Linked DNA regions of Homo sapiens. The protein of the gene in region 5 purifies or fractionates together with the protein of the main gene of each other region. This does not show direct contact. Each region holds a gene or a part of one and is shown on either strand. Other genes may lie near its edges. The genes, in order: CNN1, TTC5, HSPB8, PPP1R2, CIAPIN1, RAB5B and RNF20.

Evidence for each region.
Region 1: the proteins of CIAPIN1 (region 5) and CNN1 purify together in Homo sapiens (affinity purification with mass spectrometry; one large-scale study listed by BioGRID and IntAct). This does not show direct contact.
Region 2: the proteins of CIAPIN1 (region 5) and TTC5 fractionate together in Homo sapiens (co-fractionation; one large-scale study listed by BioGRID). This does not show direct contact.
Region 3: the proteins of CIAPIN1 (region 5) and HSPB8 fractionate together in Homo sapiens (co-fractionation; one large-scale study listed by BioGRID). This does not show direct contact.
Region 4: the proteins of CIAPIN1 (region 5) and PPP1R2 fractionate together in Homo sapiens (co-fractionation; one large-scale study listed by BioGRID). This does not show direct contact.
Region 6: the proteins of CIAPIN1 (region 5) and RAB5B fractionate together in Homo sapiens (co-fractionation; one large-scale study listed by BioGRID). This does not show direct contact.
Region 7: the proteins of CIAPIN1 (region 5) and RNF20 fractionate together in Homo sapiens (co-fractionation; one large-scale study listed by BioGRID). This does not show direct contact.

The regions. Positions count from the first base shown.
Region 1 is NC_000019.10:11,544,630-11,549,068, forward strand, and holds part of CNN1 (calponin-1), read left to right. Parts: intron 1-2,045; coding exon 2,046-2,112; intron 2,113-2,202; coding exon 2,203-2,340; intron 2,341-3,167; coding exon 3,168-3,278; intron 3,279-4,439. UniProt on the Homo sapiens protein: Thin filament-associated protein that is implicated in the regulation and modulation of smooth muscle contraction. It is capable of binding to actin, calmodulin and tropomyosin. The interaction of calponin with actin inhibits the actomyosin Mg-ATPase activity.
Region 2 is NC_000014.9:20,291,798-20,296,236, reverse strand, and holds part of TTC5 (tetratricopeptide repeat protein 5), read left to right. Parts: intron 1-382; coding exon 383-529; intron 530-710; coding exon 711-925; intron 926-4,109; coding exon 4,110-4,254; intron 4,255-4,439. UniProt on the Homo sapiens protein: Cofactor involved in the regulation of various cellular mechanisms such as actin regulation, autophagy, chromatin regulation and DNA repair.
Region 3 is NC_000012.12:119,191,597-119,195,693, forward strand, and holds the end of HSPB8 (heat shock protein beta-8), read left to right. Parts: intron 1-2,102; coding exon 2,103-2,262; 3' UTR 2,263-3,150; downstream 3,151-4,097. UniProt on the Homo sapiens protein: Involved in the chaperone-assisted selective autophagy (CASA), a crucial process for protein quality control, particularly in mechanical strained cells and tissues such as muscle. Displays temperature-dependent chaperone activity.
Region 4 is NC_000003.12:195,516,345-195,519,982, reverse strand, and holds part of PPP1R2 (protein phosphatase inhibitor 2), read left to right. Parts: intron 1-797; coding exon 798-965; intron 966-3,040; coding exon 3,041-3,087; 3' UTR 3,088-3,638. UniProt on the Homo sapiens protein: Inhibitor of protein-phosphatase 1.
Region 5 is NC_000016.10:57,427,263-57,430,900, reverse strand, and holds the end of CIAPIN1 (anamorsin), read left to right. Parts: intron 1-561; coding exon 562-643; intron 644-1,620; coding exon 1,621-1,731; 3' UTR 1,732-2,714; downstream 2,715-3,638. UniProt on the Homo sapiens protein: Component of the cytosolic iron-sulfur (Fe-S) protein assembly (CIA) machinery required for the maturation of extramitochondrial Fe-S proteins.
Region 6 is NC_000012.12:55,983,472-55,987,910, forward strand, and holds part of RAB5B (ras-related protein Rab-5B), read left to right. Parts: intron 1-3,397; coding exon of another isoform or gene 3,398-3,489; coding exon 3,490-3,652; intron 3,653-4,439. UniProt on the Homo sapiens protein: The small GTPases Rab are key regulators of intracellular membrane trafficking, from the formation of transport vesicles to their fusion with membranes.
Region 7 is NC_000009.12:101,550,410-101,554,848, forward strand, and holds part of RNF20 (E3 ubiquitin-protein ligase BRE1A), read left to right. Parts: intron 1-196; coding exon 197-376; intron 377-1,274; coding exon 1,275-1,410; intron 1,411-1,731; coding exon 1,732-1,853; intron 1,854-1,973; coding exon 1,974-2,344; intron 2,345-3,578; coding exon 3,579-3,696; intron 3,697-4,284; coding exon 4,285-4,434; intron 4,435-4,439. UniProt on the Homo sapiens protein: Component of the RNF20/40 E3 ubiquitin-protein ligase complex that mediates monoubiquitination of 'Lys-120' of histone H2B (H2BK120ub1).

The DNA.
Region 1 (4,439 bases), on a different chromosome or scaffold from region 5:
GCACACATCACCACGCCCGGTGAAGTTTTCGGGTTTTTTTTTTTTTTTTTTTTGTAGAGACACGGGTCTCACCATGTTGCCCAGGCTGATCTGAAACTCCTAGGCTCAAGCCATCCTCCTGTCTCGGCTTCCCAAAGCACTGGGATTACAGGTGTGAGCCACTGTGCCCAGTTCTACAGAGGGCATTTTAGGCAGAGGACTTAGGATTTCATTCTGAAGGCAATGGGAGGCTCCTGGAGGATTTGGAACTGGACGGTAACTTGAACTGTTTAAAAAAGGCCATTCTGGGCCAGGGGCAGTGGCTCATGCCTGTAATCCCAGCACTTTGGGAGGCTGAGGTGGGCATATCACTTGAGGTCAGGAGTTCGAAACCAACCTGACCAACATGGTGAAACCGCGTCTCTACTAAAAATACACAAAATTTAGCTGGGCATGGTAGCAGGCACCTGTAATCCCAACTACTTAGGAGGCTGAGGCAGGAGAATTGCTTGAACCCAGGAGACAGAGGTTGCAGTGAGCCGAGATCCCGCCACTGCCTTCCAGCCTGAGTGACAGAGCAAGACTCCATCTCGGAAAAAAAAAAAAAAATTCTGGCTGCTGGATGAAGAAGGGTGGGTCTGTAGGGGATGAAGTGGAAGTTGGGAGCTCATTACAAGAGGCCAGGAAACAGACTCTGGTGGCTGAGACCCAGGTGGAGGTGGCGGGGAGCAGTGGGTGGTTTTCTGGACTCATTAAAAGGCAGAGCCAAAGAACTTTGGAGGGACTGGACATGAGGCTGAGAGAAGGAGAAAGGGGGAGTTGGGGGCAAGTCCAAGGGCTCTGGCTGAGCACCTAGAAGGGGGCACTGCTAGGCAGGGAAGGTGGAGGGAGGGGGGAGTCTGGAGGGGGAAGCTGCATGTCAGGAGTCTGGAGCAGGGTGAGTTTGATTTGAGACACCCAGGCACCCATGGAGAGAGCTGAATGAGATGGTAAGAAACCCAAGCTGCAGGGAGATGAGGGAGTTGCTGGCATATGGAGGCACTTAAAGTCAAGACACTGAATGAGGCCAGGTGCTGTCACTCATGCCTGTAATCCCAGCGCTTTGGGAGGCTGAGGCAGGAGGATCGCTTGAGCCCAGGAGTTCAAGACCAGCTTGGGCAATACAAATACAGTGAAACCCCCTCTCTACCAAAAAAAAAAAAAAAAAAAAAGCCAGGCATGGTGGTGCGCACCTGTGATCCCAGCTACTCGGAAGGCTGAGGTGGGAGGATCGCTGGAGCCTGGGAAGTTGAGGCTGCAGTGAGCTGTGATTGCACCACTGCTCTCCAGCCTGGGCGACAAAGCCACACCCTGCATCAAAAAGAAAAAAAAAAGAAAAGAAAAGAAAAAAGAGGCGAGATCATTAAAGGAGTGAGTCAGAGAAGAGGCCCTTGTGGGCTTCCTGCTGTCTACAAGAGAAAAGGATGCTGAGACACGCCTGCCAGTGAGGCTTCGGAGATCCCAGAGACTCGGACACACCTTGGATAAGCAGGCTTTCTGACTGGGACCTGAGTCTAGCTCCTTGGCATCAGTGTCCCATTTGTGTGTGTGCTTGGGTGGTTTGGAGGGGCTGCAGCTGAGAGCTGACTGCAGGGAGAAGTGACGCTAGGGTATGGCATGGCCCCTTGTGGTCATCCCGTCACCCTCCTCCTGCTGGGCTGGGCTGGAGAGCGGGAGTGGGGGACACCTTTCTTTCTTTTTTTTTTTTTTTTGAGACGGAGTCTCGCTCTGTCCCCAAGCTGGAATGCAGTGCTGCAATCTCAGCTCACTGCAACCTCCGCCTCCTGGGTTCAAGTGATTGCCTCAGCCTCCTGAGTAGCTGGGAGTACAGGCATGTGCCACCACGCCTGGCTAATTTTTGTATTTTTAGTAGAGATGGGGTTTCACCATGTTGGCCAGGATAGTCTCGCTCTCCTGACCTCGTGATCCACCCGCCTTGGCCTCCCAAAGTGCTGGGATTACAGGCGTGAGCCACCGTGCCCAACCCTGGGGGGACACCTTTCTTACCCCTTCCCCACTCTTCTCAGATTCATCAATAAGCTGCAGCCAGGCTCCGTGAAGAAGATCAATGAGTCAACCCAAAATTGGCACCAGGTGAGCCCAGACACAATCTCTTCCATCCTTGCCCGCAAGCCCCTCAGACCTCCCCTCCCCACCCAGTGACCACCACCTGCCCCCCTCTAGCTGGAGAACATCGGCAACTTCATCAAGGCCATCACCAAGTATGGGGTGAAGCCCCACGACATTTTTGAGGCCAACGACCTGTTTGAGAACACCAACCATACACAGGTGCAGTCCACCCTCCTGGCTTTGGCCAGCATGGTGAGTGTGGTTGCAGGCTGGGCAGGGGGTGGTGGGCAGCCTGGGCTGGGATGCAGGTGTGGCCACTTGTGCTCCTGAGCCCAGTGAAGGTGGCGGAGCGGGGGGCAGGGATCGGGGAGCAGGTGCTGTCAACAGCGTCCAAGGGGGCCGGGCGCGGTCGCTCACACCTGTAATCCCAGCACTTTGGGAGGCCAAGGTGAGCGGATTGCTTGAGGCCGGGAGTTTGAGACCAGTCTGGCCAACATGGTGAAATCCCGTCTCTACTAAAAATACAAAAATTAGCTGGACGTGGTGACGCATGCCTGTAATCCCAGCTACTCAGGAGGCTGAGGCAGGAGAATCGCTTGAACCCGGGAGGCGGAGTCTGCAGTGAGCCGAGATCGTGCCACTGCCCAGCCTGGGTGACAGAGCCAAGACTCCGTCTCAAAAAAAAAAAAACAAAAAACAAAAAACAGTGTTGGCCGGGCACGGTGGCTCACGCCTGTAATCCCAGCACTTTGGGAGGCCGAGACAGGTGGATCACAAGGTCAGGAGATTGAGACCATCCTGGCTAACATGGTGAAACCCTGTCTCTACTAAAACTACAAAACAAAATTAGCCGGGCATGGTGGCAGGCGCTTGTAGTCCCAGCTACTAGGGAGACTGATGCAGGAGAATGGTGTGAAGCCGGGAGGCGGAGCTTGCAGTGAGCTGAGATCACGCCACTGCACTCCAGCCTGGGCAACAGAGCGAGACTCTGTGTCAACAACAACAAAAAAACAGTGTCCAAGGGGACTGTGCAGCCTGGAGGCCCCCTTGTCAGTCCCTGCTTTCCCTGCCCCACCTAGGCGAAGACGAAAGGAAACAAGGTGAACGTGGGAGTGAAGTACGCAGAGAAGCAGGAGCGGAAATTCGAGCCGGGGAAGCTAAGAGAAGGGCGGAACATCATTGGGCTGCAGGTACCGCCCTGTCCTCACTGCGCAGAGGTCATAGAGGCCAGGAGGGCACCCTGATGTCTGAAGGCTTTTGGGGACAGGATATTTGGCATTAACTATACTATAGGCCGGGTACTGTGCTTATGCTCATCTTCCATTCACAAACTCACTCACTCTGCCAACACCCCAGCAGACAGGTGCTTGTTATCAACATACCCTTTCCGCAGATGAGAAAACTGAGACCCGGAGAAGCTGGCTCGCTTTTGCACAGATCTTCCAGCTGATGCGTGGCAGGCTGGAACTTCAATGCTAGAAGTCAGTCATGTGATAGGCCCACTCTGGGCCTCAGTTTCCAGTCTCGAAAGGATGCCTCAGGCGGGGTGCAGTGGCTCACACCTGTAATTCCAGCACTTGGGGAGGCTGAGGCAGGAGGATTGCTTGAGGTCAGGTGTTTCAGACCAGCCTGGGCAAAATAGAACCCCCCTCCACCGCCATCTCTACAACAAATTTAAGAGTTTAGCCAAATGCAGTGGTGTCTGCCTGTGGTCCCAGCTACTTAGGAGGCTGAAGTGGGAGAATCACTTGAGCCCAGGAGTTCAAGGTTACAATGATTGCATCACTGGACTCCAGCCTGGGCGACAGAGTGAGACCCTGTCTCTAAAAATGAAAATGGGCTGGGTATGGTGGCTCATGCCAGTAATCCTAGCACTTCGGGAGGCCGAGGCAGGCGGATCACTTAAAGTCAAGAGTTCAAGGCCAGCCTGGCCAACGTGGTGAAACCCTGTCACTACCAAAAATACAAAAACTAGCCGGTGTGGTGGGGCACACCTGTAGTCCCAGCTACTCAGGAGGCTGAGGCAGGAGAATTGCTTGAACTCAGGAGGCAGAGGTTGCAGTGGGCCAAGATTGTGCCGCTGCACTCCAACCTGGGCGACAGAGTGAGATGCTATCTCAAATAAAATAAAATAAAACAAAAAAATAGAATAGAACAAAATAAAATATAAAAATAAACTAAAAAATGGGCCAGGCACAGTGGCTCACCCCTGTAATCCCAGCACTTTGGGAGGGTGAGGTGGGTGGATCACCTGAGGTCAGGAGTTCGAGACCAGCGTGGCCAACATGGTGAAACCCCATTTCTACTAAAAATACAAAAAATTATCCGGGCATGGTGATGCCCACCTGTGA
Region 2 (4,439 bases), on a different chromosome or scaffold from region 5:
GCTTCAGTATCTGGTGTAGTCACTGGAGGGAAAGGAGAAGGGGCTGTGGAGGTGGAAGAATAGGTAGAGAATGGGGGGATCTTTTAGAAGACTTCTGAAATGTTAAGTAAATATAAAGGTCAAGTGAGCCAATATATACAACTTAACTATTTTAGAGTTTGGAAATTAGCTTCTTTGAAATGATTCCATCTTTGGGGTTGTGATCATCTTGGCTAGGAAGAAGGATGTAAGGTGTTACCAGCTCTTCAGGCTGTTTGTTGCAGCACAGGAAAATAACCAGGAAGGAAAACAGTTTATTTCTCTAGATTCCTAGCCCATGGTGCCATTCCCTCGGGATAGTTTGTCTGGATATACTTATAATTGGGATACACTTCTTGTACAGTTGCATAAATATGAAGAGAGTTATGGGGAGGCCCTGGAGGGCTTCTCTCGGGCTGCAGCCCTGGACCCTGCCTGGCCAGAGCCCCGGCAACGAGAGCAACAACTTCTGGAATTCCTGGATAGATTAACCAGCCTCCTTGAGAGTAAGGTAAAAATGTCTGAAGGGCTGAATTCCACTTTTTTTTTTTTTATTTTGTCGTGGGTCAATAAAATAAGAATAAATAGGTTTACGAGGTAGAGACCCTATAGAAGTGGGTGGGAGGGAAGGATTAGAATCTCAAGGAAGGCGACTAGTTTCCAGCTTCTTACCTATTTCCCCTTCTTTGCAGGGAAAGGTGAAGACCAAAAAGCTGCAGAGCATGCTGGGAAGCTTGCGCCCAGCCCATCTAGGCCCTTGCAGTGATGGGCACTATCAGTCAGCCTCTGGGCAGAAAGTGACCCTGGAGCTCAAGCCACTGAGTACGCTTCAGCCTGGGGTGAACAGCGGTGCCGTCATCCTGGGAAAGGTGGTATTTAGCCTCACCACAGAGGAGAAAGTCCCCTTGTGAGTTTCTCTTGGATTTCCCCCATTTTACCCTTTTGAACTAATTGCTCTCACTTCCTGTTCTTTCCCTGGCAGTTGAGGAGATTGTCAGTGGTCACAGATTTGTGACTTCTGATTTCCTTCTGTGACTATCCCGTGGGCAGATATTGTCTGGGTGATGTTTAACCATCTTTTGATCAGAGGCTTTTGTAGATTCTGTCACTGCCCATTTTGTATCCCTGAGTTTGGTGCTATGTGGATTCCTATATCCATAGTTGAAATTTGGCAGGACATATTTTTTTATAAGACAGAAACCTCAAAATTCTTCTGTCCCTTTGCATTTTCATGATCATAGAAGTTGAAGGAGGACAAATTTCTTAGTCCTGTTTGTACTTAGGTATACTTAGTTCTGAAAAGTGAGCTTTGAGTTATAATTTAAAGTCTGGTTGGGAGATTGTCTTAGATGTCATTCAACAAATATTTATTGAGTGTGTAATATATGTGTCATAGGGAGTGAGAAAAAAGAAATGTAAAGGACCCAGGTGCAGGTGCTTCTAGCAGCAGAGGAAATGAATTAAGAATATTTGTTTAGAAAATTTTTGGATCTTGAAAAGTTACGGTTTAGTGAATGCCACCACTCCTTGGTCCTTCACTCACTTCCTAATCCCTGGTTGACCGGTTTCCCCTTTCTCTTTTCTACTGAAATTGTTATTTTCCTAGGATCACCATTGTCTTTCTAGGCACTGGATCCAGCAACTTCTATTGCATGGTTCCAAAACATTCTGACTTATCTCTCACTATTGCTTTTCACATCCTTTCTGTTCATCTAAACAGAAATATTCACAATTCCCATTATATGCCCAAGCTTTCTCCATGGCATTTTCTAGGGGTTTGTATATTTGACGAGTTGAAGGGCAAAAAGATAGTTGAGAACAGTTTAGTTTACTAGAGCAAATCCTAGAGCTGAGAAGAATTAGAAAGGGATATAGACAAAGGTAGGTTTTGGAGGACCTTGAGAACAAATAGATATTTTGCCACTCCTTGGTTTCTCTTTTTCTGCCTAACTTTTAAATCTTAGGTTCCCAGGACTCTATTTTTGTTTTTTTCCTTTTTTCTCTTTATATCAGGATGGCCTATAGTTGCCAACTTTGATCACTTGTCAGTGGTTGCCTGACATACTGTGTAGAAGGATTCTGAGGCTTTGACTGGATTCATCAGGAGAGTGCTTTGCTTGATTGCAATATTTCCTGTGAATTCAGGCATGTCACGTGATGGCATGAGTGTGATTCTTCTCCATCCTGTCTATAGATCATCTTGCCCTGTGATGTCATATAAACCCAAGGCTTTGGCAGCCTCCTATATGCTTACAGATATATCTCCAGCCCAAGCTTCATTTCCAAGTGTTGGATTCCTATAACCATCTGCTTCTGGGTTCCAATAAGAAATCTCTAACTCAGTATTTCAGTATTACTCACCTAAATCTTTCTCTGTAAACCTGCTTCTCCTCCCTGGATTCCTTGTGAATGAATGGTATCACCTCTCAGTCACTTGATTAAGACTTTTGGAAGAATAGGCTTCTCCATTCTCCAAAAAGATTTGCCTTTTTTGTCCTATAGACTTGACTTCTCTGTGTTTACCACCTTAATTCACCCCCTTATCACTTCTCCAGATAGGTCTCCCTGATTCTCTGGTTTCCTCCAGTGTTCCACAGTGCTGCCAGAGAAATGTTTCTTAGATGGAAATCTGACCATTGCTACTTCTTATTTAAGATCCCTTACTGGTACTATATGTAGCTTTTGGGATAAAGTGTGAACTACTTAGGTTAGCATACAAAGTCCTTCATGATTTGCTCCCTGCTTCTCTTTCTATTATCTTTTGTCTCTTTCCCACCAGTGCCTTTTGTTTCAACCATGGAACAATTTTGTTGGTTTTAGAACAGCTGTTTTCATGCCTCTGTGTCTTACATACAGTTACTCTGCCTGGATAATCTCTAGCTTCTTCTTGACATAGCTAACATCCTCTTCTGCCCCCAACATTTTGTATAAAAATTTTCAAACATATAGCTAAGTTGAAAGAGTTTTACATTGAACATTTGTGTTCTCATCCACTTATATTCTACCATTAATATTTTATTTTACTTAGCTTATTACATATCAGTCTGTTTATCCTGCTATCAGAGTAAATTGCAGAGATCAATATACTTTACATACTTTAGCATGCAGTCATTAACTGAGTTCAGTATTTGTTTCAATTTTTTCTTTTTATGTAAAATTTACATACAATGAAATGTACAATTTTAAGCGTACATTTCATAGCTTTTAACAAATGGAAAATATCTGTATAACCCAAATAGAGATCATTACCACCATTCTGGGAAGTTCCCTGATGTTGCCTCCAAGTCAAAATCTCTGTTCCTATCCCCTCAGAGGTTTTTAACATTTTTACCGAGGATTAATTTTTCTCTTTTAACCCAGCTGGTTTTTTACCCTTTAAGATTCACTTTGAGCGTCACCTCTTCCAGGAAATCTTCCCTGCTTTCCAATTTTGATTTAGATATTTGTCCTCTGGGCTCCCACAGCCCAATCTGTGGCTTCATTGAATTCAGCACAAGGGAAAAGCTATTCTAGCACCCATCACACTGTGCTGTAAGTGATGACTTCATTGTCTGACTCCTGCTAGACTATAGGTCATTCATAGCTGGATTGGTATCTTATTGCTAAACACAATGCTTGGCACATATGTAATATTCAGTGAAAGTTTGTGGAGTTAAACTACACAGACAGTGATGGTTAGAGGCTTTGGTTAAGAGTATGATAGTTAAATTGATAGACCAGGAATAATGTTACAACTGTAACATGTTGGTCTAGTTCATCATTAATATTTGTTGAATGGCTTCAGTGTGCTTTGTCCTAAGTTCTTAGCAAAGTGACTGATGAGTTTCAGAAAAATGAAGACTCAGATATATAAAGTGGAAGATGGTACCTCTCATAGGTTTTCTGAGTAACTGAGAAAAAGCATTTGTTTATTTTGTTAGTATTTTATTTTTAAAGTTTAATTAAGTTAAATTTTATATTTTATTTTAATTACCTGTCACTGACTTTAAGTCCAGTATTTTGCTAGTATTTTTAAACCACTGTTTCTGCTCTTCTTTCCTACCCACATACCTTTTTGTTTTCCTCTCTCCTAATCTGTCTTTACTTGGTAGTACATTTGGCCTGGTAGATTCAGATGGACCTTGCTATGCAGTGATGGTGTACAATATAGTGCAGAGCTGGGGAGTGCTCATTGGAGACTCTGTAGCCATTCCTGAGCCCAACCTGCGGCTTCACCGAATTCAGCACAAAGGAAAGGTGAGCAATGGCTAGGATTCTCTTACAACTCGTAGGCTCTAAAAGTAGAACCAAGCTTATCTTTTTATAAAAGATATAGAAATAATTATATGTAAGTATGTGTGTAGGCTATGTGTATATATATTTGTGTGTATATGTTTTATTTATATATATATATGTATTTTTTTACTAAAAAGGTAAACTGG
Region 3 (4,097 bases), on a different chromosome or scaffold from region 5:
AAGAAAAAAAAAAAACTCCCCAGCCCCTCCAGAAGGAGTCCTGCCTATGATCAGGAATGGGCTTACCTCATGCCTTGGTTCTTTCATCAAGACCCTCGTATTTACAATAGGCAGAGCCAGCAGGGATCAGTGGAAAGATTTTGATTGAACTGCCGGTCCTTCCTGCCATAGTCCTTCTTTCAAATGTCTGGTGCTGGGGGAGGCAGGAGAGCATCATGGTCAGATACTCTGAGTTTGGAGACCAGGATTCCAATTCCATTTCCTATCTGCCATTTGCCAGCTGAGCAACCTTGGGCAAAGCAGTTCACTTCTCTGAGTCTCAATTTCCTCATCTGTAAGATGGGGATAGCAATGGAATCTGCCTGGTGGGATTATTGTTAACACCAAAATGATATGATTCAGCTAAAGTACCTGGCACATAGAAAGTACTCAGAAGGTCATGGATTTCATGGTTAAAAAAAATAATGGCACCCCAATGAGATCACTAATATGTCCTCACAGTTTTAATAGTTTGTTGAAGAAACCAAATTCTCAATAGTCTCATTCACCCAAAGCAATCCAAAAATCATAAAAATACCTTATTAGAAGTTGGACCAGATTTAGGTTTAGAAATTCCATCTTCGATGCTTTCTCACTTGTTGAGCTTGTCATTTGATTTCCCCCAAGTCTCTGTTTAGTGATCTGTAGAATGGGCATATTAATTCTTACCTCTTAATCATCCTCTTACAATACTCCAACCAAGTATTGTCTATAACTGAGTTTTAAGAACAAGATAATTGGCTGGGCTCGGTGGCTCACGCCTGTTATCTCAGCACTTTGGGAGGCTGAGGTGGGTGGATCACAAGGTCAGGAGTTCGAGACCAGCCTGGCCAACATGGTGAAACCCCATCTCTACTAAAAATACAAAAATTAGCCAGGCATGGTGGTGGGTGTCTGTAATCCACACTACTCAGGAGGCTGAGGCAGGAGAATTGCTTGAACCTTGGGAGGCGGAACTTGCAGTGAACCAAGATCGCGCCACTGAACTCCAGCCTAGGTGACAGAGTGAGACTCTGTCCCAAAAAAATAAAAGGAAGAACAAGATAATAATGATCTGCTAAGTGATTGTATTAGTCTGTTTTCACACTGCTGATAAAGACATACCTGAGACTACATAATTGATATATATATGAAAAAAAGAGTTTTAATGGACTCACAGTTCCACATGGCTGGGGAGGCCTCACAATCATGGCAAAAGGTGAAAGGCACGTCTTACATGGCAGCAGACAAGAGAGAAAATGAGAACCAAGCAAAAAATCTTATAAAACCGTCAGATCTCGTGAGACTTATTCCCTACCATGAGAACAGTATGGAGGAAACTGCCCCCTACCCATGATTCAATTATCTCCCATCAGGCCTCTCCCACAACGTATGGGAATTATGGGAGCTACAATTCAATATGAGATTTAGGTGGACACAGCCAAACCACATCAGAGATACTTAGGGTATGAACAAAATCAAGGCTTATTTTGAATACCATCGAGTATGTTGCCATCTGAAATCTACATGTGGCCAGCTTGGCCCCTTTTATCCACCAAGGTACCTAGTGCTTGCATCACCATTAATGCATTTTGTAGTGAAGCACTCTCCAGCAAGCACATGTCAGATGAAAATGTGTTGCCTGTTATGATAACACCTTACTTGCGCTCTATAAAGGGATGGTAGTGGTGCCATTTCTGCTAGTAATTGTGGTCAGTAGTGGGTATTAAGGTGATGACTTCAACCTGGGACCAAATATGTGGGCCACAGCTCTCTTTTAAGTTAAGAACTACTGTTCAAACAGCATTTTACCATTTGCAAAGCATACTCAGACTCTGAAGTTCAAATACTCTACAAGTTCAGTATTATTATCCTCATTTTGCAGATGAGAAAACAAGCTCAGAGCAACTGAATAATCTTCCCAAGACCACACAGCTAGAAAGGGGTAGAGCCAGGATTCAAACCCAACATTGTATGTCCCCAAAGCCTAAGCTCTTATCAAAAATATTTCCTCTCAAGTGAATAAAAGAATGTTTAAGCAATATTAACAACAATAAATGAATAAAATCGTGTGTTTCTCCTAGGCTTCCTGCAGAGGTGGATCCTGTGACAGTATTTGCCTCACTTTCCCCAGAGGGTCTGCTGATCATCGAAGCTCCCCAGGTCCCTCCTTACTCAACATTTGGAGAGAGCAGTTTCAACAACGAGCTTCCCCAGGACAGCCAGGAAGTCACCTGTACCTGAGATGCCAGTACTGGCCCATCCTTGTTTTGTCCCCAACCCTAGGGCTTCTCTGATTCCAGGATACATTACTTTAGCTGAACTCAGATTTAGTGCAAGTAAAATGTTAGAGGGTGCGGGGGTGAGGACTGACCACAGATTCCCTGGATAGTGTAGTGGTAGATTTCTCCACAGGATAGCGCAATTGGCAAATCATGCTTGGTTGTGTTAGGCCAAAATACTAGTTTTGCTTTCTTTACCTTTTCTATCTTGATGAAAATGTTGCACATTCTATAGTTGCAAAACACATAAAAGGGGACTTAACATTTCACGTTGTATCTTACTTGCAGTGAATGCAAGGGTTACTTTTCTCTGGGGACCTCCCCCATCACCCAGGTTCCTACTCTGGGCTCCCGATTCCCATGGCTCCCAAACCATGCCGCATGGTTTGGTTAATGAAACCCAGTAGCTAACCCCACTGTGCTTCCACATGCCTGGCCTAAAATGGGTGATATACAGGTCTTATATCCCCATATGGAATTTATCCATCAACCACATAAAAACAAACAGTGCCTTCTGCCCTCTGCCCAGATGTGTCCAGCACGTTCTCAAAGTTTCCACATTAGCACTCCCTAAGGACGCTGGGAGCCTGTCAGTTTATGATCTGACCTAGGTCCCCCCTTTCTTCTGTCCCCTGTGTTTAAGTCGGGATTTTTACAGAGGGAGCTGTCTCCAGACAGCTCCATCAGGAACCAAGCAAAGGCCAGATAGCCTGACAGATAGGCTAGTGGTATTGTGTATATGGGCGGGACGTGTGTGTCATTATTATTTGAGTTATGCTGTTGTTTAGGGGTAAATAACAGTAAATAATTAATAATAATAATAATAATAATAAAGGAGCTGACGTTCTTAGCCTTGTGTGGTTCTTTTAATGAGGAACTAAATGTAATACCACCTAGATATACAACATCAGTTAGCAATGCTGTGGCTTAAAGTAATGTTGCGCGGAGCCGCGATGCCTAAAGGAGGGAGAAAGGGAGGCCACAAAGGCTGGGCGAGGCAGTATAGGAGCCCTGAGGAGATCGACGTACAGCTGCAGGCTGAGAAGCAGAAGGCCAGGGAAGAAGAGGAGCAAAAAGAAGGTGGAGATGGGGCTGCAGGTGACCCCAAAAAGGAGAAGAAATCTCTAGACTCAGATGAGAGTGAGGATGAAGAAGATGACTACCAGCAAAACCGCAAAGGCGTTGAAGGGCTCTTCAACATCGAGAACCCCAACCAGGTGGCACAGACAACCAAAAAGGTCACACAACTGTATCTGGATGGGCCAAAGGAGCTTTCGAGGAGAGAACGAGAAGAGATTGAGAAGCAGAAGGCAAAAGAGCGTTACATGAAAATGCACTTGGCCGGGAAGACAGAGCAAGCCAAGGCTGACCTGGCCCGCTGGCCATCATCCGGAAACAGCGGGAGGAGGCTGCCCGGAAGAAGGAAGAGGAAAGGAAAGCAAAAGATGATGCCACATTGTCAGGAAAACGAATGCAGTCGCTCTCCCTGTATAAGTAACCGCGACCCATGGGAGGAGATGCCGGGGACCTGGGCCGCGCTGCCAGGACCTCTGCTGTGTCTCGCCCACCCTGTGCCCTGGCGCCGCCGCAACAGCCCCTCGTGGCCAGGAGCCCCCCATGGCCTGGGGCCTCCTCTTCATTTTGGCACAGAAATTGTTTGGGGGATGTGGGGGGAGCTGGGGGAGGGGCAGTTGCTATCTTTGAGACAGAAAGATGAGGGACAGCATTTCACATGTAACCATTTGAATGTTTTTGCTGTTTTTAGAATTCAGAGCCCTTGCTGGGGGGTGCCTGGGA
Region 4 (3,638 bases), on a different chromosome or scaffold from region 5:
TCATTGGTAAAATAGCTGGCAATTTTATATTGGCCCCCCCTTTTCTGTTGTTTTTTTTTTTTTTTAATTTTCTGATCTAAGGAAGTTAAAAACCTTAAAATTATGTATTCATAAATAGTTGCTCTAGTGTGATCAGTTGTGTTGCTGCCAGCTTTATGTTTCTATGGTGAAGACTAAAATGAAATATTTTGGAGTCACTTCACCATTACTTTATAATACGTTTTTCTTAAAATTACTCTGAAAATGAGGTTACGTTTTTAGCCAACAATGTCTTAAATCATGGCAGTTTCTTAACAGGTAAGAATTGTTTTAAAGGATTTTTTCTTAATTATAAAAATAGAAAATAATAAAATATTAAAACTACTTCATTGTTCCTTGACTCAGAATTAAACACTGTTAATTGCTGAGTCTTATTTTTCTCTCTGTGTGTGTATGTGACAGGCATTGTACATAGTAAATATAGTATATGGTGTTGTAACTCGCTCTTTTGTCACCATTTAACTCTTTCTGGATAATTTTCCCATAGCTTTAATCTTTCTTCACAAATATAATTTCTAATGGCTGGATATATTCTTGTTCTTCCATTGAGATGAATGCCAGATAGTAAATATTTTAAATTTTGCAGGGCCCAGTGGTCTCTATTACGAACTACTCAACTCTGCCATTGAACACAAAAGCAGCCTTAAGCATGACAAAAACAAATGAGCATCACTGTTTCAATAAAATTTTATTTATAAAACAGGCATGGGCCAATCCTTGAGCTCAAACTTCCTAAGTTTACATTTTGCATCTTATAGAAAAAAAGCGACAATTTGAAATGAAAAGGAAGCTTCACTACAATGAAGGACTCAATATCAAACTAGCCAGACAATTAATTTCAAAAGACCTACATGATGATGATGAAGATGAAGAAATGTTAGAGACTGCAGATGGAGAAAGCATGAATACGGAAGAATCAAATCAAGGTTAGATGTTTGGAAAATGTCACTGAGACTTTTGTAATGGTCTATGCCTAAGATAATGTACTTTATTTTGCTTTAAACTTGTGAAAAAACAGAAAATTTTGCTGAGATTCGCTTTATTATACCAAATGTTTCTAAAGTTTTAACCCGCATGGCCAATTTCAGAATAATAAAGTTTTTATACCTAGAGTTGATTTGATTTTAGACCATATGTTTTATTATATGGCTTTCTTATGGTTTACTTGCCTTTAGGCAAGGATGTTTGTCTTCATATTAAGCTATATTTTGTTTTGAATATTTTAGGTCATGTTGTATTTGTCATAACGATCTAAAATTTAAAATTTTTAAATGAAACTTTTTTTTTTTTTTTGAGACAGAGTCTCGCTCTGTCACCCAGGCTGGAGTGCAGTGGCGTGATCTCGGCTCACTGCAAGCTCCGCCTCCTGGGTTCCCGCCATTCTCCTGCCTCAGCCTCCCGAGTAGCTGGGATTACAGGCGCCTGCCACCACGCCTGGCTGATTTTTTGTATTTTTAGTAGAGATGGGGTTTCACCATGTTAGCCAGGATGGTCCCAATCTCCTGACCTTGTGATCCGCCCGCCTCGGCCTCCCAAAGTGCTGGGATTACAGGCATGAGCCACCGCGCCCAGCCTGAAACATGTTTTTAGTATGGAAGATTTGGTTTTACATCCCGTTAGATACAAAGTATGTCATATCTTTCCAATACGGATTCTTTTGACTGTTGGATTGACAAGTTATTTAACTGTTTTTGTTTTTATTTTTTTTTTAAGTCTTAGACACCCAGCCCCTGCAGCCTAGCAACTCCTGATCTGTCATAGGAAATAGGTTTTATTTATTTTTTATGAACTGTTACTCTGGTATTTAATGAAGTGAATCTTCTGCATCACTAATGGAGATTTTTTGTGCCCACCACCTACTCCTTGTACTTACAAACTTCATACTTTTCAGTGGAGGCGTAACTGATGTTATTTGTGGTGCCCAGAATGGTTAAGTCTTAGGAAATTAAATAATTATTGTATTACCATTTTGGTAAGCATAGTATTAAATATGAATAATTCTATGATACAGCCTGATGAGTTGCTGTCTCATAGTGTCAGGATTACAGTACTTTTTGTTATTCCGTAATATGCTTCAACCTTTTAGTCTATTTCATATAGCCTTTCATTTCCATTATATATCCCATAGTCTGTTTAACTTATATTTAACTTGAGCAAACTTCATCTTACATAGTAGCTGTGGCATGTTTTTATTATCCATTTTTATTTTTATTTTATTTTTTGTTATAGAGGCAGCGTTTTTTGTTTGTTTGTTTTAACGCCATTTCTTTTGAAAAATAACTATGGCATTTTGTCCGTCTCTGCTTATAAGATATTACATTTCACATATTTAGTACATAAATATATTTTTTGTTTAAGTTTAATGGAGGATTAAAATTTTGTATTAGGTCAGTGCCTGATTTTTCTTCACTGGAGATGAAGTACACCTTGCAAAGGAGTATATCCTGCTTAGCATTATAAAACCCACAAGAATAGGATAAGACTTAGGGAAATAAGTACCTTATTTACCCCCTACCCTTTTTGGGCCCTTAACATTTTACCAGCTTTTCAGATCTCTAAGTTCTATAGAACCCATTAGTTTTGGGACAGTGCCAGTCTCCTCCCTTCCCCCTTTCCTCCCCCATTCACACAATTCATTGGAGAAAATGACATGTTTGGACTCTTAGGTGATATTTTATAGCTTTCAGGTAATAAATATGTATCTTTTTATAGCTCTGGATATTGGAGTTGTCGTAAACTCTTACCTTTCCACCTGTGACTTACAGAAATGTTCAATCTGAAACCTGTTTGTTTTATCAGCAAGTAGACACTTCTGTTCTTTAGACTATTTAGGGGAGTGTATAGATTCTTCAATTTCAGTCTAAATCAGCCTACATGAAATATACCTTATTTGTTTTTAAAATTTTTATATTTGCTTGTCATGCATGCTAATAGAAGGGAACTTTAGCCAGGGTTGACAACATATAACAAATTATGTTGACTTTTTCTTTTATCTTTGCAGGATCTACTCCAAGTGACCAACAGCAAAACAAATTACGAAGTTCATAGACGAGATTTGTTCAACACTGCAATTGTTTGTTAGATGTAAACCCTGTGACTATAGTACGTTGCTTCTTGTTCTTCACAATTCATGACTTAAGTACCAAAATGCATACCAGTTATTATATATTGCCAAGAATTAAATGATAAACTTAGAGACTGATTAGACTGAAAATGCCTAATCGATATATATATTCTTGTGCCTAGTACTTTACCACAAATACAGTGTAATATCATCAGTCCAAAACTGCATTACTTTTGTAAAAACACTGGTTAATTTGTATAAGATATTATAGAGCTTTTTATGCTTTAGAAGTTAAACAATATCTTTGGGGGGGAACTAATTTATTTTCATCACTTGAAATGTGGTAGCTCTTACAAAGTTTATTGATTTGATTTTTTTAAAAATCAAAAGCCAATTGAACAACAGGATATATAGACTGATAAATATTTAGGCTGAATAGTATTTTAACACTTGTCTTCAACTTGATTTGTCTGTTTAATTGAAAAGAATTATAAGAGTTACTGTTGCATTTTCTGACCTACTATTTTTAAAATTC
Region 5 (3,638 bases):
TAATTGTGCCATGTATCTAATTTCACTCTCCCTCAAAACCCTACCAGTAAGCCACTATTGTGCCACTGCACTCCAGCATGGGCATCAGAGCGAGACCTTGGTGTCTTCACATTTGTTTTTATAAATGGATGGGAAGGATTGTAGAAAGTTAATCAGTGATGTTCATCATCAGCGTTAATCATCAGTGTTTTTTAAATGTAAAAGCTGCCAGCATTTACAAATCAGGAAATTTCAAGTGAAAACACAGATTTTTTTCCCTTCTGTTCTTGAATTTGGAAAATATGGCAATCTGGGTCCACTTTCCCCAGCATGATAACCAGCTGAAGCTTGAGTAGTGGCTGCCCTCTGTAGACAGAGCACACACGGTACTTCCCTCATCCTCCTCCCACTTCTGTCTCCCTCAGCAGCCTCTCATATTGCTGCTGTCTGCCTGGCCTATAGGCTTCTGAGTTATGACACTGGTGTGAAGAGAAAAGGCTTAAAGCACATTTTGGCACTGTTAGGATTTGGGATTTCTGGGTGGTGACAATTCTCGTTCATTAGTTACTGATTTTCCCGCAGCACCTGTGGCCTTGCCGAAGAACTGGAAAAAGAGAAGTCAAGGGAACAGATGAGCTCCCAACCCAAGTCAGCTTGTGGAAACGTAAATATCAGGATCATTCCTCAGCATTCACAAACCCCCAGGGGGATTAGACCTTCTTCTAAACTAAACACAGACAAGCTCCACCTCAAATATTTTAGTAACAGACGAATGCGTGAGCACACGAACGTAGGTAGTAATGGGGAGAGAGGCTGTCTCCTGAGAGTGAGAGTGGGTTAGCGTGCTTGTGCTGGTCAGGGAGGGTCTTGTTGCTTTTTATTTTTGGCCCATTTCTTTGTACTTCAGAGTGGGACCTGATGGTTAGACAGTTAGCTAAAGTTGGTTGTGTTTTGAACTGCATAGAATATAGAACTATGGCCGGGCGCAGTGGCTCACGTGTGTAATTCCAGCTATGCCAGAGGCTGAGGCGGGAGAATCACTTGAACCTGGGAGGTGGAGTGAGCTGAGATCGCACCACTGCACTCCAGCCTGGGTGACAGAGGGAGACTCCATCTCAAAAAAAAAAAAAGGCCGGGTGCGGTGGCTCACGCCTGTAATCCCAGCACTTTGGGAGGCCAAGGAGGGCGGATCACGAGGTCAGGAGATCGAGACCATCCTGGCTAACATGGTGAAACCCCGTCTCTACTAAAAATACAAAAAAATTTGCCGGGCATGGTAGCGGGCGCCTGTAGTCCCAGCTACTTGGGAGGCTGAGGCAGGAGAATGGCGGGAACCCAGGAGGCGAAGCTTGCAGTGAGCTGAGATCGCGCCACTGCACTCCAGCCTGGGTGACAGAGGGAGACTCCATCTCAAAAACAAAAAAAAAAGAACTATGGCCTCCTAGGGAACTTTTCATGACTATAGTTTTTCACGAAACCAGAAATCTTGAAAACTCTTAGTATTTTGGTCTCAATTGGACCTGCAAACATAGCCATTTCCTTCAGGCCACTGTGGCCACATTATGAAATTAGGCATTTCTTTCTTCTGGCTGGTATGCCTGGGATAAGCTGACCCTTGGCTTCCCCATTCTCTCTCTCCAGTGCTACCTGGGCGATGCCTTCCGCTGTGCCAGCTGCCCCTACCTTGGGATGCCAGCCTTCAAACCTGGGGAAAAGGTGCTTCTGAGTGATAGCAATCTTCATGATGCCTAGGAGGTTCCTGACATGGGACCCATCTGCTCCTCCAGCCAACTCCTGTCCCTCACATCCCACCATGGTGGCTCCTCCCACCTCCTCTGGATTTGTTCACTCTGAGATCTGTTTGCAGAGTGGGTGCTTAGCAGACAGAGTGAAGCTGGCTGGGGGGCACAGTGGTGTGTAGTGCTGCTGTGTATCAAAAGACCAAGGTATTATGGGACCTGGTTTCAGAATGGGATGGGTTTCTTCACCTCATGTTAAGAGAAGGGAGTGTGTCCTGAAGAAGCCCTTCTTCTGATGTTAAAATGCTGACCAGAACGCTCTTGAGCCCAGGCATCGTTGAGCATTAACACTCTGTGACAGAGCTGCAGACCCCTGCCTTGAGTCTCATCTCAGCAATGCTGCCACCCTCTTGTCTTTCAGAGTTGTTAGTTTACTCCATTCTTTGTGACACGAGTCAAGTGGCTCACAACCTCCTCAGGGCACCAGAGGACTCACTCACTGGTTGCTGTGATGATATCCAGTGTCCCTCTGCCCCCTTCCATCCCCAACCACATTTGACTGTAGCATTGCATCTGTGTCCTGTTGTCATTTATGTTAACCTTCAGGTATTAAACTTGCTGCATATCTTGACATATCTTGAGATTCTGCATGTCTTGTAAAGAGAGGGGATGTGCATTTGTGTGTGATGTTGGATAGTCATCCACGCTCAGTTTGGACCATTGGAGGAACTTAGTGTCACGCACAAATGGGGCTATTCCTACGCTTAGAATAGGGCTTGTCTGCCCACTTTAGAAGAGTCCAGGTTGGTGAGCATTTAGAGGGAAGCAGGGCAGAACTCTGAACGACAATACGTCTCTCTGAGCAGAGACCCCTTTGTTCTTGTTATCCACCCATATGGACTTGGAATCAATCTTGCCAAATATTTGGAGAGATTGTGTGGATTTAAGAGACCTGGATTTTTATATTTTACCAGTAAATAAAAGTTTTCATTGATATCTGTCCTTGAAACTTGATTTGATTCTCCAAGTTTGCTTTGCTTATCCTAGTCCCTGCTGGTGGATTTTAGTTGTTTGTTTGGCTAATTGAAGTTTGGCTCCAAAGCCCCTTTTATACACAGGTCTAAGATGACCCCTAGTGACTCATGCCCTTGTGTAATAACCCCCTTGAGTTTCAGCAGGACCTGTGAATGTGATGGGATAATCCCTACTGTGATTAGGTTACCTTCTGTGGCAAAAGTGAAGGGATTTTGCAGATGTAATTAAAGTCCCTAATGGACTTGAAGTTAATTAAAAGGGAGATTATCCTGAGTAGGCTTGACCCAATCAGTTGATCCTTTAAAAGAACTAGAGAAGAATTTCTCTTGCTAGCCATGAAGAAGTAAGTGCTGTATTAGTCTGTTTTCATACTACTATAAAGAACTGCCCGAGACTGGGTAATTTTTAAAGGGAAGAGGTTTAATTGACTCACAGTTCTGCATGGCTGGGGAGGCCTCAGGCAACTTACAATCATGGCGGAAGGCGAAGGGGAAGCAAGACACCTCCTTCACAAGGTGGCAGGGAGGAGACATGCTGAGCAAAGGAGGAAGAGCCCCTTATAAAACCATCAGATCTTGTGAGAACTCACTATCATCAGAACAGCATGGGGGAAACCGCCCTCATGATTCAGTTACCTCCACCCCTCTCGCTTGACACGTGGGGATTATGGGGATTACAATTCAAGATGAGATTTGGGTGGGGACACGAAGCCTAACCATATCAGTTGCCAAGTAGGGAGAGGGCCATTGGCAAGGAACTGTGAGTGCAGGCTCCTCACATGCTGGCAGACAGTCGAGAAAAAGGGGACCTTAGTCCACAGCTGCAAGGAACCGCATTCTGCCAACAACCAGGTTAGCTTGGAGAGGACCCCAAGTTCCAGTTGAG
Region 6 (4,439 bases), on a different chromosome or scaffold from region 5:
ATCATAAAATGGTACATGTATATCTGAATTTTTAAGACTGACTGACCAAGGGGACTACAGAATACCCAGTAGAATCAAAGTAATTGTCATGTTCCTCTGTATTAATCTAGTCTACTTTGGGACCTTGAGTTCTCACCTCTCATTCTTTTGCTAACTTCCTCTTTACCCTTTAGTTATGTCTCCTTTTTTTTTTTTTTTTTTTTCCAGAGATAGCGTCTTGTTCTGTCGCCCAGGCTGGAGTGCAGTGGTGTAATCAGCTCACTACAACCTTCAACTCCTGGGCTCCAGTGATTCTCCCACCACAGCCTCTGGAGTAGCTGGGATTACAGGCACATACCACCATGCCCAGCTAATTTTTTTAAATGTTTTCTAGAGACTCAGTCTCGCTATGTTGCCTAGGCTGGTCTCAAACTCCTCACCTCAAGCAAGGCTTCCCCTTTTATCTCCCAAACCCCTGGGATTACAGGCATGGGCCGCTCTGCCAGGCCTGTTTTTTCTCTTTTTCTTTCTCTGTACCACTTTCATATTGTGGCTTCTTCCCTGCCCCCGATCTCCCCCCTACCCACCCCAGGTGGAGTCTTGCTCTGTTACCCAGGCTGGAGTGTGGTGGCACGATCTCGGCTCACTGCAACCTCCGCCTCCCGGGTTTAAGCAGTTCTGCCTCAGCCTCCCGAGTAGGATTACAAATGCCGGCCACCAACCACACCCGGCTAATTTTTTTTTTTTTTTTTTAGACTGAGTCTCGCTGTTGCTCTGTCGCCAGGCTGGAGTACAGTGGTGCAATCTCAGCTCACTGCAACCTCCACCTCACAAGTTCAAGCAGTTCACCTGCCTCAACCTCCCAAGTAGCTGGGACTACAGGCACGCGCCACCACGCCCAGCTAATTTTTGTATTTTTAGTAGAGACGGGGTTTCACCATGTTTGCCAGGCTTGTCTCAAACTCCTGACCTCCTGATCTGCCTGCCTTTGCCTCCCAAAGTGCTGGGATTACAGGCGTGAGCCACTGTGCCCGCCTTTTATTTTTTGAGACGGAGTCTCGCTCTGTCACCCAGGCTGGAGCACAGTGGCGCATCAGCTCAGTGCACCCTCTACCTTCTGGGTTTAAGCGATTCTCCTGCCTCAGCCTCTGGAGTAGCTGGGATTACAGGTATGCACCACCACACCCAGCTAATTTTTTTTGTATTTTTAGTGGAGACGGGGTTTCACCATGTTGGCCAGGCAGGGCTCGAACTTCTGACCTCAGGTGATCCACCTCAGCCTCCCAAAGTGCTGGGATTATAGGTATGAGCTACTGCACCCAGGCTGTGGCTGCTTTTTAGGAATATATTGATAACAACTAATATTGAGATATATTTTAATAGCTATTAGCACTATGCTAAACACATCTTTCACTTATTATTTGTAGCTATGAGGATGGTATTTTTTCCATTTTACAAAGGTAGAAGGTAAGGCTTAGAGAGGTAGAGAAATTCTCTTTATATCATATTAGTAATGATTAGTAGCTTAATATTTATTTAGCACTTAGTATCTATCAAATACTTAAAATACTTTAGTTATTTATATGCATTATCTCATTTAATCCTTACAACACCCTTATGAAGTAGGTGCTTATAAGGCTATTATCTCATTTTACAGATGAGGAAATGAATGCACACATATATTTAGTGACTTGCTCAAGGTTCATAGCTAGTAAGTAGAGCTGAAAAACAAACGTGGAGAATTGGACTCCAGAGCCTTTATTCCTCTGAATTGCCTCCTGTATGATTTTCTGTCTTTACGATCTAGTAAGTGGGGTTACTGAAAATTTTTAACCCCAGTTTAACTCCAGTCCCACTAATTGTGGTGACAAAATAATGATGTTTCCCCACATATGCCATAGAGTATGATGTCTGTGAAGTCACTAGGATCTGCTTTGGAAAAGCGAAAGAGTAATTTGAACAAGCAAAGTACAACTCTCAAGCAATGCTTAGGTTTGGGAGAGAGGTTTTTGCATGCTCTGCCTATGCTAACTTCCCTTTGAATTTCATAGTTCCTTTCCGCTCAGAGTCAGGATGATGAAATGTATTCAGATTTAGACGATTAGAATCTCAAAGTCCCAACTCTTCTCTCTGTTCCCTGCCCCACCAGCAGCTTTCTTAGCCCTCTTAGAAGATAGAGGAGCTGATTCAGTGTATTCTTTCATCAAATACTGATTGCTTGCAGACTTAACGCCCTATACCATCCTCTGGAGACTTCTGCATGTCTTTAGAAGGTATACCTTTCTCTGCCTCTAATTTGGAGGGCTACAGCTGTTAGGCCCCTTTGGTGTGGAGGGTAATCTAATCCCTAGGCACCAGCAAGACAGCTGCAAGTTGAGAGTAGGTCAAGCTTACTGATTCTTGATAGACTTTCAGATTTGGAAAGATGGCAGAAACAAAGTGAAAAAAGAGTTGTTAATGAAACAAAGAGTTGATAATGAATGTGATCTGTTGGTTGTATTTCTCTCTTTACCTTCAACCAAAAATGAGAAAGGATAGATTTTGTGGCAATGGGACCCTGGTTAGATCTTTAGAAATGTCTTATCAGGGAGACCGGTCATATATAAAGGATACAGCAGCAACTACCCTTCTGCCCTTAGGAGTGGTGACTCTTATCCCACACCCCTAGAGTGAATCTCTCATTTTGACAAAGAGCTAAGGAAAAATGAAAAGAAGGCCAGGCACGGTGGCTCATGCCTGTAATATCAGCACTTTGGAAGGCCAAGGCGGGCAGATCACCTGAGGTCAGGACTTCTTAGACTAGTCTGACCAACATGGAGAAACTCCGTCTCTACTAAAAATACAAAATTAGCCAGGCGTGGTGGTGCATGCCTGTAATCCCAGCTACTCGGGAGACTGAGGTGGGAGAATTGCTTGAACCCGGGAGGCAGAGGTTGTGGTGAGCCAAGATTGTGCCATTGCACTCCAGCCTGGGCAACAAGAGTGACGTCTCAAAAAAAAAGAAGAAAAGGAAAAGAAGAGCACAGCACCAGGATGCCAAGGAGATACTGGGGATCTAGGGTACCGGTGGGTGGATCTGGATATTCTTCAGGCCAGCTAAAGGTTGATCACTTTGTGTGACTCAAACAAAAAACTTTGAAGACCTGGTGGGGAATTACTGGGGAATTAAAAACTCTCAGTTTTCAGTCTCTCTATTTCGGCTCCCTTGGCAGTTAGAGATTATGTGGTAGGGCAGACTCCAGAAGCAGTTCTTATTTTGCTCTTCCCAACTCTTACCACTGAGGATCAGCTGCCTGGGACCTTCTCAGAGCTAAGTCCTCATAGAAGCAAGGAGATGAAGAGGTTCTATCCTTCTCTGAAAAGCGATTGCAGCTTCAATGGACGTATGTTTAATTTTATTCACTTTTTTTTCTTGCAGGAGTGTTGAAGCCTGGAAATCCCCTCCCCTTCCCCCTCCCCCCTTTACAGTATCCCCCTCCCTCCACCCTTTCCCATTCTGATAATCTGGCCATGACTAGCAGAAGCACAGCTAGGCCCAATGGGCAACCCCAGGCCAGCAAAATTTGCCAGTTCAAATTGGTCCTGCTGGGAGAATCTGCAGTGGGAAAGTCAAGCCTGGTATTACGTTTTGTCAAAGGGCAGTTCCATGAGTACCAGGAGAGCACCATTGGAGGTGAGTGCCTTGGGGTAATAGGAGATTGAATGTTTGGTAAGGGTTTTTTTTTTTTTAGATGGAGTCTTGCTCTGTTACCCAGGCTGGAGTGCAGTGGCGCAATCTTGGCTTACTGCAACCTCTGTCTCCCAGGTTCGAGCGATTCTCATGCCTCAGCCTCCCGAGTAACTGGGATTACAGGTGCACACCGTGGCACCTGTCTAATTTTTGTATTTTTAGTGGAGAGGGGGTTTCACCATCATGTTGGCCAGGTTGGTCTCAAACTCCTGACCTCAGGTGATCTGCCTGCCTCGGCCTCCCAAAGTGCTGGGATTACAGGCGTGAGTCACCACGCCGGGCCGGTAAGGCTTTTGAAAAGAGATATAAGACCTGATTATGGAGCTGGCCCTCTTAGTCCCATTCTTTTCCCCAGAAATGGAAACCCTTTATAAAAACAGAGGCCGGTCCCAGTGGCCCACCACTTTGGGAGGCCAAGATGGGCGGATCACCTGAGGTCAGGAGTTCGAGACCAGCCTGCCCAACATGGCGAAATCCTGTCTCTACTAAAAATACAAAAAATTAGCCAGGCGTGGTGGCAGGCGCCTGTAATCCCAGCTACTCGGGAGGCTAAGGCAGGAGAATCACTTGAACCCAGGGGGCAGAGGTTGTAGTGAGCCGAGATTGCGCCACTGCACTCCACCCTGGGCGACAAGAGCAAAACTCCATCTCCAAAAAAAAAAAAAAATCAAAATCTGGTAAAATAGGCTGGGCATGGTGGGTCACACCTGTAATCCCAGCATTTGGGAGG
Region 7 (4,439 bases), on a different chromosome or scaffold from region 5:
GGTACCATCTCCTAGTTAGTCTAATTTAATTTTGGGGTAGATTTTACATAACTACAGCAATGGGTAGATAACTTAATAATCTTTATAAAATTGTCTCTCTTGTGTAGGACATCAGTGAGTTCAAAATTTTACTTCCTGTCTAGCGTCTGGGGCAATGCTAGATTCTGCTTCTGACTTTGCTTTGGGCCCTCCTAAGGTGGAATTGCGGAGTGCAGTGGAGCAAGTCGTTAAGGAAACTCCAGAATATCGCTGCATGCAGTCACAGTTCTCCGTCTTGTATAATGAGAGCCTACAGTTGAAAGCACACTTGGATGAGGCTCGGACCCTGCTTCATGGCACCAGAGGAACCCACCAGCACCAGGTTGAGCTTATTGAGGTAATAGCCTTGCCTTGTCTTTTGTATGTAAGCTTTCTTGCCTCCTAAATTTTACAATTTTACTCCCTCATGTGCAATTAATCTCTCATTCATTCAGCTGTCATTCATAGAGTGGCAGTAGGTCTTTACTCTGGTAGGTACTGGGCATATAAAGATGAGATGACAAAATTCCTGCCCTCACAGATCTTGTAGTCTGCAGTAATGGGAGAATAGTATCCATTAGAATGCAATGTGGTACAATGGCAGCATAGCCAAAAGATGTGATACATGAGAAAAGAGTGTCTGATTTGACTGTGGAAGTTTCCTGATTCCACTTAAAAAAGTAAGGTATAAATATTAAGGATAAATTATTGGTAGTTGAAAGTAGGAGAAGAAGAATTCCCGGCATGAGAACAGCACATATAAAGGTATGAGAGAGCATGAGAAATAGTTTAATATGGCTAGAGCTTACGTGTATGTGAGAAAATAGTGGGTAGAAGCTGCAAAATTACTTACATTTCTTAAACAAAAAGCATATAATGGCACCAGTAGATGATTTTTTTAAAAGATAGAAACTTTTATTCATATGTTCATTTCTGTATCTTCCATAGTTTTTAAGGTAATGGTTATAATAGTTGGTCTTTTAATATATGCCTGACAAATGAATTGAATACTATTTTACATATGTTTATATACTGTTTTATAGTTTAGTTCTCCAACTAAATTCTAATATTCTCAGAATTGGTGGCCATTTTCTTTATTTTTCAGTATCCTGTCAGTTTCCAAATTAGTCTTTTGTAGATATCTGGTTTCATTACGTATAGATTGAACTGGAAATTTTCAGAGTAATCCATAGAATATGATGATATTTCTACATTTTAATAAGAATTTTTTTATTGGTTCCTTTATCTGTGTGTAGCGAGATGAGGTTAGTCTTCATAAGAAGCTGAGGACTGAAGTAATTCAGCTAGAAGATACATTGGCCCAGGTCCGCAAGGAGTATGAAATGCTGAGGATAGAATTTGAGCAGACCCTTGCTGCCAATGAACAAGCAGGTATAATGATTCTCACTCCATGCTGTAGTTTGCTCTTAATACCTTCCTTGAAAGATACAACACAGACCCCAGGGTTTGTTAATGCTGACTTCAACTCAGAAGTCATAAGTACCTTAAATCCTATAATTCATTTTGGTTCACAGCCTGGATGTTTGTTTTTTAACTCAAGTTGACCAGTTTTGTTTTCATCTTCTGAGAAGGAATCTTTTATTTGGTAATTCTCCCTATTTCTCAGTGCCTCCTGATGTGTTCTGTTCTTTCTCTCCTTGTGCCTTTGCCCTTACCACGGTTCCTCATAACATTGTTGTTCCTGTATTTAAGGCCCTATAAACAGGGAGATGCGCCACCTCATCAGTAGCCTCCAGAATCACAATCACCAGCTGAAAGGGGAGGTCCTGAGATATAAGCGGAAATTGAGAGAAGCCCAGTCTGACCTGAACAAGGTAACCAGAGGGAATAGAATAAATATCATTTGCTATTAATGTCGTAAAGCTGCTTTTGAATGAGGTCGGCAATGTGGTTATCATAAGAGATGTGCATCTTTCTTTTCTTTATTCTCCCAGACACGCCTGCGTAGTGGTAGTGCCCTCCTGCAGTCCCAGTCTAGTACTGAGGACCCGAAGGATGAGCCTGCGGAGCTAAAACCAGATTCTGAGGACTTATCCTCCCAGTCCTCAGCTTCAAAGGCATCTCAGGAGGATGCCAATGAAATCAAGTCTAAACGGGATGAAGAAGAACGAGAACGAGAAAGGAGGGAGAAGGAGAGGGAACGAGAAAGAGAACGGGAGAAGGAGAAGGAGAGAGAACGAGAGAAGCAGAAGCTAAAAGAGTCAGAAAAAGAGAGAGATTCTGCTAAGGATAAAGAGAAAGGCAAACATGATGATGGACGGAAAAAGGAAGCAGAAATTATCAAACAATTGAAGATTGAACTCAAGTAAGAACCACATTTAGAGTAACAGTTTCGACTGAAAAGCTAAGATTAAGACATCATGCATGAAATGTTTGGTTGATGGCATGGCTTGTCTGATCGTTTTAATGTTTTAGATTGTACAATTAATTTGGTTTCAAGTCGTGTTCAAGTGCACAGCCAAAATGGCTTGCATGGCTATTTAGTACTTTGGTTCAGTGATCGAGTATCAGCAAACCGATGATGGTAGCCTTATTTTTATGAATCCAAATTAAGGAAAAGGATGTCATGATTGAGGTAATACTTCTGAGAATTATTGGGAATTAACTACTGCTCTTCACTGGATTTGAGCAGATTGCTGGCGTTAATTGTAATTTAAATGATATTAAGTGGAGTATTTATATATCACTGTAACTTGAACAATATCTGATCTATTTGCCTGAGAGTTAACTGGTTTGTGAATATGCCATATCTTTCTTAGGAGATTTACTCCTATACACATTGACACACTAAGATAGACCTTTAACTTGTTGAATTTTTCTGTGTCATAACCTTATGCATTGGCCCTTCTCCTGTATAACCAATAACTTCTCTGGCAGAACGGCTTACTTCTTGCTCCTTACTTTCTATGGTTGATCCTTTGTTGATGTTTGGACTTGAGAGACCACTGTGCTCAAAATGCTTGAACTCTTTTGGTATATAAAAGTATAGTTAAGAGGTTTAGTAATTTAATAAGAGGTGAAGTTTTAGTCTTTGGCTGATGGTTAATCACTCAGCTGTCAAATCTAGGATTAACAGTATATCTCAGACTTTCAAATTTTTCCCTTTTATTTCTCCCTCTTGAACTCTTTAAGGCAATTTTTTTTTTTTCTGGTGTGGTATCAGAATCATCTGAGTGACTTGTTTAAATCACTTGTTTAAATTTTTGAACTCCATCCCCAGACCTACTGAATCTCAGTTACCCAGGGTTGGGGGCCACAGAAATTTGCCTATATAACAAGTACACAAATGTCTGTTTTATAACTTTGTTAGAGGACTTTGAAGGGAGAAATGATTCATTTTTATACAGCTTACTTTTCTGTACTTTCTAAGCATATCCAAAAGTCTTTTGATAGTCTGTGCAAAATTTTATCTTTTAGGTGTGATATGAAATGTAAAATGAAACTGTTTTAAAATATTCTGCTCAATCAAAATTCCCTTGCTCTGATGACCTTTATTTTCTTATTACATTGTTCCCCTCCCTCTACTACGCCTGTCATAGGAAGGCACAGGAGAGCCAAAAGGAGATGAAACTATTGCTGGATATGTACCGTTCTGCCCCAAAGGAACAGAGAGACAAAGTTCAGCTGATGGCAGCTGAGAAGAAGTCTAAGGCAGAGGTATTCTAGTCTGCTATTACCTGTCCTTCTGGTTAAAATCTTCATTTGTGGGATTTTCCTTTATACTTGCCAACGATATAATTTCTTTCTTTATCTTTAAAATAAGTGTTTAAGTGCAACATTTTCTGCCTTTTCAAAGACCATCTGAAGTAGAGATTTTAAAACTCTCCATAGGATGGTAAAATATATCTGAATTACTGGGGTTATGAGTAGGCTTTCCAAAGTATGTATTCCTTGTTTTTCCTATGTAATTCATTGCTACAGGGATAATCTTTTTCATTACTTTTGGGAGGAATGTCTTATGCTCTTAAAATTTTGAGGCCTAAAAAAAAGGATGGGAACCACTATTCTAAAGAAAGTTACCTGTGCACTTCTCAAAAGTGTTGCTTATAGAAGCATGTCATAGTAGAATGGAGTGATGTTAAAACAGATGGTGTTATGTAATGTTTTAGTATATTATGTACCTTGTTCTATAATTCTGTAAAGACTCTTTTGGTATTATGAACCTTCTATCTTTGCACAGTATTAATTGATTTTTGAAAATGTGTTATAACTTTTTATTTTTGTGCAATTCCTTTCCTCTTATAGTTGGAAGATCTAAGGCAAAGACTCAAGGATCTGGAAGATAAAGAGAAGAAAGAGAACAAGAAAATGGCTGATGAGGATGCCTTGAGGAAGATCCGGGCAGTGGAGGAGCAGATAGAATACCTACAGAAGAAGCTAGCCATGGCCAAGCAGGTGGA